Linked DNA regions of Homo sapiens. The protein of the gene in region 2 purifies or fractionates together with the protein of the main gene of each other region. This does not show direct contact. Each region holds a gene or a part of one and is shown on either strand. Other genes may lie near its edges. The genes, in order: MTUS1 and FNBP4.

Evidence for each region.
Region 1: the proteins of FNBP4 (region 2) and MTUS1 purify together in Homo sapiens (affinity purification with mass spectrometry; one large-scale study listed by BioGRID and IntAct). This does not show direct contact.

What each region holds. Positions count from the first base shown.
Region 1 is NC_000008.11:17,798,113-17,802,440, reverse strand, and holds the start of MTUS1 (microtubule-associated tumor suppressor 1), read left to right. Parts: upstream 1-1,346; 5' UTR 1,347-1,380; intron 1,381-1,523; exon of another isoform or gene 1,524-1,843; intron 1,844-4,328. UniProt on the Homo sapiens protein: Cooperates with AGTR2 to inhibit ERK2 activation and cell proliferation. May be required for AGTR2 cell surface expression. Together with PTPN6, induces UBE2V2 expression upon angiotensin-II stimulation.
Region 2 is NC_000011.10:47,764,465-47,768,761, forward strand, and holds the start of FNBP4 (formin-binding protein 4), read right to left. Parts: upstream 2,878-4,297; 5' UTR 2,825-2,877; coding exon 2,605-2,824; coding exon of another isoform or gene 2,599-2,604; intron 2,157-2,598; exon of another isoform or gene 2,112-2,156; intron 899-2,111; coding exon 806-898; intron 1-805.

The DNA.
Region 1 (4,328 bases), on a different chromosome or scaffold from region 2:
GTCAGGAAATAATGGATCATTGTACATATGAAAAGTCTTTACAACTATCAATGGCAAGACATCTGTCAGTTATTCTAATATTCATGGTATAGAAAACTGTGAAATACAGAGTCCTTACGTCTATTCTCCAAAAAAGTTCACTTCTCTTTAAAAGCTTTTAGCAAACCACAATCCAGGTAATTAAAAAGGAAATATTAAAATTTTGTTCTCAGGTTGTCTGACATTTCACGGTTCAGCAATGTGACATCTCTCACAGGCAGAATAGCATCTTCGGACAAGTTTTCTATTAAAAATATGCTTTATAGAAGAAAATATTTTACGGACCTAGAAGACAGCTGTCGATGAAATTTGCTCAGTTTAGCAAACAGCAAGGACTGTGTTTGTGTTTAGAGAAAAGTAGGTCGAGCCTAGTTTATCTCCCTGGGGTTCTAGACTCCTTTCCACGTTGTATCTCAAGCTCTAATAGCTGGAAAGCTACTTTCTTTAACCTTTAATACACACTTGCTAGTAAACTTGCTAGAAGCATGAAGATAATACAGACTGCGAATCAGCCCTTCTAAGAGACAATCACGACTCCTTCCTTGCAAGCTTCCGCCCTGATAATTCTGCAACCTTCCCACCTTCTATACGCCCCGCGGTGCGAGGCCCCTCGGCCTGCAGGTGGCCAGAGGCAAGCAGGAGTCAGATCCCCCACCTACCGCGGCCCGGCCTGGGCCCTAGCGCTGGGTGCGGCGGAGCCCCGGGCTCCTGCGGGGACGAGCGTGGTCCCGGGACGCGCGGTGCAGCCAGGTGCGCCGGCGGCAGTGGCAGCCGCTGAGCGCCGCGTCGCACGTGGCAACAGGTGCAGCGCTGTCCCGGGCTGGCGCCGGGGGGCGTGGGGCGCGTCCGCACTTAGTCCGGGAGCGCGCGGAGCGTCGGGATTGGGACCCGAGAGCGGGAGCGGAGAGCGGGAGCGCCCGAGCGGAGTCCAGCGCCCCGAGGTACGGCCTCGCACGTCATTCAGGTTCCCCGAGGGCCGTCCCCTGGGACGGCGGCTGGCCTTGGTCTCCCGCAGCGAGCCGCTGGAGTGGAGCCTTCGGAAGGAGCCGCCCCGGGTTGGGGCGGGAGGCCCGAGTTCGGCTATTTACAAGTTTCCCGAACTCCCCGCCCTGCTCCACCCCCTGGCGGCCCCGGAGGCGGGGAGGCGGGGAGGCCGGGGCTCCGGGTCCCGCCTGGTAGCCGCCGCAGGCGTGGGGTGGTGCCGCGCCGCGCGCCCCCAGGTGCAGACGCCGCCCCCGAGACCTCCGGGGCGGGTTCTCGGCGACCCCGCCAGTGGTGCAAAGGGCGCCAGCCCTCCCCGCCTCTGCGTCTTTGCTCCCGGAGCGCTTGAAGGAGCTGCGGGTAAGTGCGCGCTGGAATCTGTTCCCGCTGCCCGGCGGCCGGGGTGGGGAGGGGACAGGCGAGCGCGCCGCCCAGGGTGACGGGACCGGTCCTCGGGGAGGGGAGGGGGCGTTCCAGGGGCCTGGGGGCCGAAGCTGAGGGCTAAAGGGGGCGGCAGCGCCGGCGGAGCGGAGGCGGGTCTCACGTGGGCCAGCGCAGAGCCTGCGGAAGGGACGGATGCGGATCTCGTCGCTGTCACCTTGAAAGTGACCGAGGGGCTTGACTGTGGACTCCTTACGCCGCCCACCCGGGCCCGGCGGTCCCAGCCTTCTCGCAGGGCCCCTTCTCAGCAGAAGCAAGCGGGGCCGAGAAAGCGGGTGGAATAGGGTTGCTGCAGGTCCCAAAGACCCCTCGTGGCGCCTCGCTACTTTCTGCAGCTTGTTTGCACTTTTTCACGCTCTAGAAAAATCTCATCTTAATTAAGGTGACCTTATTGACTACTCTATAGTGCTTAGTGGACTTAGGTGTTCACTGAGGAACGTTTTTGTTCTTTTTTGAAGACGTACTCCTTTCTACCAAGTTGTTTGTTGATTTTTGACTTGGAGTAATTTGGGACTAGGAAGGAAGAGGTTAATTCATTTAGCCTGCGTAGTTACACATACTCTGTTAAATACTGTTTGTTTGAAGTAGTCAGTGTTCTAAGAAAGGAAATCCAGTGTGTTTTGTTTGTTTCAATGAAACCAAAGTCTTAGGCAAAACGGTGCGTGGAAGCTTTCAAGTTTTGCCAGGTGCAGGTGATCGAAAGTCAATCATCACTAAATCACAGCGCTGGGGCTGGAGGGTGGGAGTAGGGGTGTTACCAGTGAATTTCAGGAGGAAGGGAGGCAATGCAGGAGGGAGGGGATTAAAAAAGAGAGTCATTGCTTCCTGGGAACCAGTGACCTCTTTAAGGAGGGTATATACAAGATAACAGTGCATGGACAACTTTAAAAGGAATTGCATAAACGGAATTGCAATTCTGTAGACAGTTTGCTTTTTCAGGGATGGTTAGGGCAGGAAATGATACACAACTTAAAATGGTGATGTCCTGTTAGTACAGTGCTTTACAGTGTAGAAAGTGCTGTTACAGATTTTTTTTTTTTCATAGGCAATATATTCCATTAGGAAAGCTATACAAAGAAAAGATTAGAACTACATGCTTATCCTTAAAACCAAAGCTAAAAAACCTTAGAAGTGGAATTTAGTTTAAAATAATATGTAGTTATTTATGTAACTTGCACCACGTTTTTTCACCTGTTCTTTTTAAAATCAGGTTTATGAAGAGAAAATAATTCTTGGTAAATCTGCTTGGTAGAAAATCATGCTTGGAACAAGACCTTTTAATTATGTCAATAAGTCAAGGTTACATTTTGGAGTATAATAGGATTATAAGATTCTAGATAATATCTTATATTTTTTGGAAACTAACCTGCAGTTATTACACTCAAGCATTTAAAAAGCCTGTTACTTAATAGCCCTGTTCTGTTAACCCTGTTTGTTTTGATTTCAAAAGTAATCCGTGCTTGCTGTATAAAAATAGGTAGATTGAGAAAAGTGAGTTAAGCAATTTCAGCAAAGATAATCACAGTTAATATTTAAGAAAATACTTGTTAATATATAGAAAAATTTTTTATAGTTATATAGTTTATCTAAATATACTATTGCGTGGAGGTTTTTTCCTGATTAATGTATCATGAAAAATTTTCCATGTCATGAAATCTTCAGAAATCTTAGTGGCTACTTAATATTACATTACATAGATGTATCAAACTGGTTTTCATTTATTTCCACTTACTAAATATACTTTTGCAACAAATACGTTTTTAAAACTTTATGTGCAGGGTTAATATCCTTAGTGCCCTTGAAATACAGTTGATGGTTGGAAGATCTCCTCATACATATTGACCATTTGCTTTCCAAAAAATGTTTAACCAAATTATGTTCCCACCAGCTCTCTGTGAGAATACTGGTGTTACCGTATTCTTGTCAACATGTAGAATCATCCTTAAAGGGAAAAAAAAAAAATTCTTCCCAGGTTTATAGGTGAACAGTGCTTTCTCTATATTTAAACTTCAATTTCTTTGATTACAGATGATTTGAACACCAAAGAAATCTAGTTGTTTTCCATTTTGAAATTTGATGTAGTGCCAGATTTTTCTCCTGGGATATTAGTATTTTTCCATTAATTCATAAGAGCCTTTTATGGATTGATAGTAAATCTTTGCCATTCATATTGCAGATACTTTTCCCATTTTATCTTTGCTTTATATATTTACAGTAGTTTTGACATACACAAATTTCTTTAATGTTGATAAATCTGTTGACTTTCTCAAAACAGAATTTTTAACACTTCTAAATCGTAGCTTCAGAACTATATGTGACTGTGGTAGAAGATTTAAAAAAAATTTTCCAGCCGGGTGCGGTGGCTCACGCCTCTAATCCCAGCACTTTGGGAAGCCAAGGCGGGCGGATCAGGAGGTCAGGGGTTCGAGACCAGCCTGGGCAACATGGTGAAACCCCGTCTCTACTAAAGATACAAAAAATTAGTCAATTGTGTTGGCATGGATCTGTAATCTCAGCTACTTGGGACGCTGAGGCAGGAGAAGCGCTTGAACCCGGGAGGTGGAGGTTGCAGTGAGCCGAGATCACTCCAGTGCACTCCAGCCTGGGCAACAGGGCAAAACTCCATCTTAAAAAAAAAAAATTCCCCAAATTCTAAATTAGAATCTTTTCAAATTCATTGCAAGAACTTCCATATCTTGGGTTAGAGACTGTTGCAAAACTAATTGCATTTGTTGATGAGAAGCCACTGGGCCTGGTATATACTATTAGGAACAACATCCTTTGAAATCAGAGCAGAAAGTTTTAAATCCCTAAGACTGAATGTTTTTCAGATCTGTTATTCTGTGATTATACAAAGTAGGCTCACA
Region 2 (4,297 bases):
TCTGAAATTTCTCTCACATTCAAATTTTAGCTTTCTAACCCACACTGGGGTGTTTTGTTTGTTTTTTTTTTTTTAGGTGGCAAATGGTGAGGAGAGAGGAATAAGCATCTATCATTTTAAGCATCAAATAGTACAAAAAGTATTCTGAACTGAAAAGAAATTACTACCAATTATAGAATATTTAATATTAAAACACATTTTACTCTTCCAAGATACACAGAGTAGAGAAAATTAACATTCCTGGCACTTACTATGTCACATCTGGAAATATCTCAGAGATAAAAGATCCATTTTACAGATTAATGAGGTTCAACCCAATTAGTAATTGCGCCAAAGTCTAAGTGTGAATGCCAGAGTGATGAATTGAACCCAGGTTTGTCTACAAAACCACTGTTGCAACTATGGCATTCCTTTGTACTTGAAAATATTTAATAAGATCAATTTCCAGGTCCACCAATGTTTGTTAGGTAACCAATCAAGCCAGAGTGTTAGAAAAGGAATAGGAGTTGGCATGCCTAATGAACACCAAGCTAGTGGGAGGACCAGAAAACTAGTTATAAAATAGCATCAGGAAAAAAAAACAGTAAAAAACGTTTTGGGTAAAGAAAAACAACAAATTTTGCACTGGTCAAAGTGTATATACATCAACATTCTCTCACAAACAAAAATAATCTTAAATCATATTTTTGGGAGAAATAATGTTAGCAACACTAAAGCATTCAGCAAAACATTCTATGTACAAACCCAACTTGACTTTAATGAAAGACGTGGGAGAAAAAATGTAAAAAACAAAACAAAAGCATACCTGTTGCTTTAACAGCTGTGGGTCTAGTGGTCATGACTGGTTTTGGAGGATTCTGAACAACTCTAGGAACCTCCTGCACCGCTTCCTGTTCATCTGGATTAAAAAAAAAGAAAAGAAAAGAAAAGAAAAGAAAAGAAAAGAAAAGAAAACTGCAGTCAGATTCCAGACCAGAGAAAACACTAGAGGTGACAAACCAACCTTTGATTTAACATTTCAGCTCTAGATTCCATCAATTTTTTAAAAAGTGCATTTCGGATGGGTTCGCACCTGTAATCCCAGCACTTTGGGAGGCCAAGACGGGGGGGGGGGGGGGCCACTTGAGGTCAGGGGTTCAAGACCAGCCTGGCCACCATGGTGAAACTCCATCTCTACTAAAAATACAAAAAATAAAAAAATTGCTAGGCATGATGGCACTCGCTTGTAATCCCAACTACTCGGGAGGCTGAGGCAGAAGGATCGCTTGAACCCAGGAGGCAGAGGTTACTGCAGCCTGGGCCACAGAGGAAGACTCCATCTCAAAAAAAAGAAAGGACATTTCATTGACCCAAATAATTGGGAGATAATAAACACAGAGCTGGAATCTTTTTTTTTTTTTTTTTTTGAGACGGAGTTTCGCTCTTGTCGCCCAGGCTGGTCAAACTCCTGACCTCGAGTAATCCGCCTACCTCGGCCTCCCAAAGTGCTGGGATTACAGGCATGAGTCACCGTGCCCTGGAGTCTTTCATCTGCTTACAAACTTCAACATCAAGGGAAGACTCTTACCATGGTAAATAAAAATTATTAATACATCTGCATGGCCGGGCGCGATGGCTCTCGCCTGTAATGATCGCTTGAGCCCTGGAGTTCGAGACCAGCCCGGGAAACATGAACTCCGTCTCTACTGAAAATACAAAAATTAGCCGGGCATGGTGGCAGGGTCCTGTAGTCCCAGCTACCCAGGAGGCTAAGGCGGGAGGATCGCTTGAACCCGGGAGGTGGAGGTTGCAGTGAGCCCAAGATCGCGCCACTGCACTCCAGCCTGGGCGACAGATTGAGACATTGTCTCGAAAAAAACAAAACAAAACTCTTAAAAAGTTACATCTGCAATACTTACAAATACATACAAAAACAGTAAGTATTCTCCAGGCTATGATAGGACCTTTACAAGACACACCAAACACTGCTATTGCGGATTTTTTCCAATTAACGAACCAGCGTGATCTCTGAACATGTGAAACGGTCGCGGCTTCTCCGGCGCCTAGTCCTGGAGTCACTTTTAATCTAAGCACCACTCCAGTGAGAACCACACAAATACTTAGGAACCTACCAGCTCCATTTCTCCAGCAGTTCTGCTAGTGTGGGGATGCTTACTAGCTGGAATATTAAGAGCTTTTTCTAAACGTCTCTATCCCCGTTTCGACAAAACCGAAAGGAGGCAGATGACGTGTGGAAAGGCCTGGCCCACAGTCACAGGCCGCGCACGCGGAAACTCATCCTCACATCCACCCTCTGCGTTACCCAAAACCGACCCGGGGCGTTTGGGAGACTCAGGATGCCCGAACTTCGGTCATATTTCAAACGTTCCCGGGGCAAGCCCTGCACCACAGATGGCGCCTCGGGCTTGGCCCGGGCCGAGGGCGCAGAACTCGGCCTGGCCCTTCTGCGGCCCGGAGCCCAGGGCCGCCCCGCCTGCAGGCCCGCAGCAGGCAGGCCTCGGAAGCCGACCTCGCCCGCCTCCCTCGCCGGGTCTGGCCAGGCGCCGTGAGGAGCCTAGGCCGCAAGCCCTGAGCTCGAGTTCAGGTCCCCCCGCGCACCCTTGCCTTCTGAAGGCGAGTCGTCCGAGGCCGCGGCGGCAGTCACCGCGGTGGTGGTGGTCGTCGCCGCCGACGGGGCGGGCTGGCTGGGGACCGCCGCGGTTGAGTCCGGCTCAGTGTCGGGTTCCGGCTCCGGGTCCCGGCCCGGCGTGCTGCCCCGAGGACCCGGCGGAGAGAGTTGCAGGATGGGCCTACGGCCGGGTACCGCCCGGGACTTCTTCCCCATCGCGAGCCCAAGCGCGAGCAGAGAGCGTCGGGCGGCCGAGAGGGGCGGGCACTGGAGGCTGGGCGCTGGGCCCTGGGCGCTGCGACGCGTAATCAATATTCATACACCGTGACACCGCCTCCAGCCCGGATCCGCTTTCAACCAGCGGAGCACGCGCTTGCGCAAGCGCCTCGGACCCTTCGGCTCTTCTGGCTCCTCCTCACCAGGAGAAAGGGCGGGATTACCAACTGCGCTAGGCGATTGGCTGTTTTGACCCAGAGAAGGGACCGGTGGCCAATGGAAAAGGAAAAAGGGTGAGAGTCCAGCCAATAGTGCGGTAGGGCCTGAATTAGAACGACTTCCCCACTTCCGTCGGGTTCCACCCATGCGCTTTCCCCAAGCCTTTTCTTTGCCTACTTGTCCTCCATCTTGTGGCTATTCTCGGCCTAGAGTTTCATGTTGTCTGTCTTCTAGAAAGGTGTGCTGCTGGGCCCAGCTCACTCACGCCTGTAATCTCAACACTTTGGGAGGCCGAGGCGGGTGGATCACGAGGTCAGGAGTTCAAGACCAGCTTGTCCAAGATGGTGAAACCCCGTCTCTACTAAAAATACAAAAGATTTAGTCGGGCGCGGTGGCAGGCGCCTGTAATCCTAGCTAGTCGGGAGACTGAGGCAGGCGAATCGCATGAACCCGGCGGCAAAGGTTACAGTGAGCCGAGATCGCGCCACTGCACCCCACCCTGGGTGACAGAGTGAGACTGTCTCAAGAAAAAAAAGAAAGGTGTGCTGTTTTCTGAGCCCTTCCCCACGTTTCGCCCGGATTATTGTGGCTTACTTTGGGTATAGCATTGAACATTAAATGGGACAGTGGGTCTTTTACGCTTTTGTAATTTCCTGCAGCACACAAATAGATGTCTCATATTTTCTCGCTTATTAGCTGGGAAAAATCACGAGATACTCCACTACCTACAAGGAAAAAGCCTAAAATTGTTGGGATGGCATACAGGAACCTTACCAGTTTTGTACTACTATCGTCAACATGCTTTAATTTACCCTTGCTTTAACACTGCCCCCTCTCCCGTCTCCTGCCTCTGGAGCCCGCCACTTGGAGCATCACCTCCCTCACTTTTCCTTTGCACTGACTGGAATAATTACTGCATCACATGATGAAAGTCTTTTATTGTTTCATCAGGGCGCAATGCAGACGCAGTGCAGGCGTGACCTCTCCTGCCCAGCCTCTCCCTGGCACTTGACATCCTGTTGACATCCGTCTCCCCTCTAAACTAAGGAATGCGAGTGGTATTTATTTTTATATCCGCAGCAGCTCAGTTCCCACTAAAAATATCTAATACTTACTGAGCTCTATGTGTCAGTCACCAAGCACTTTACACGTAGAATTGCATTTGATCTTTTAAAATGATTATTTCTAATTTTATTTTTAAACGTGTCTTGCTCTGTCATCCAGGTTGGAGTAACGTGGCATGATTATAGCCCA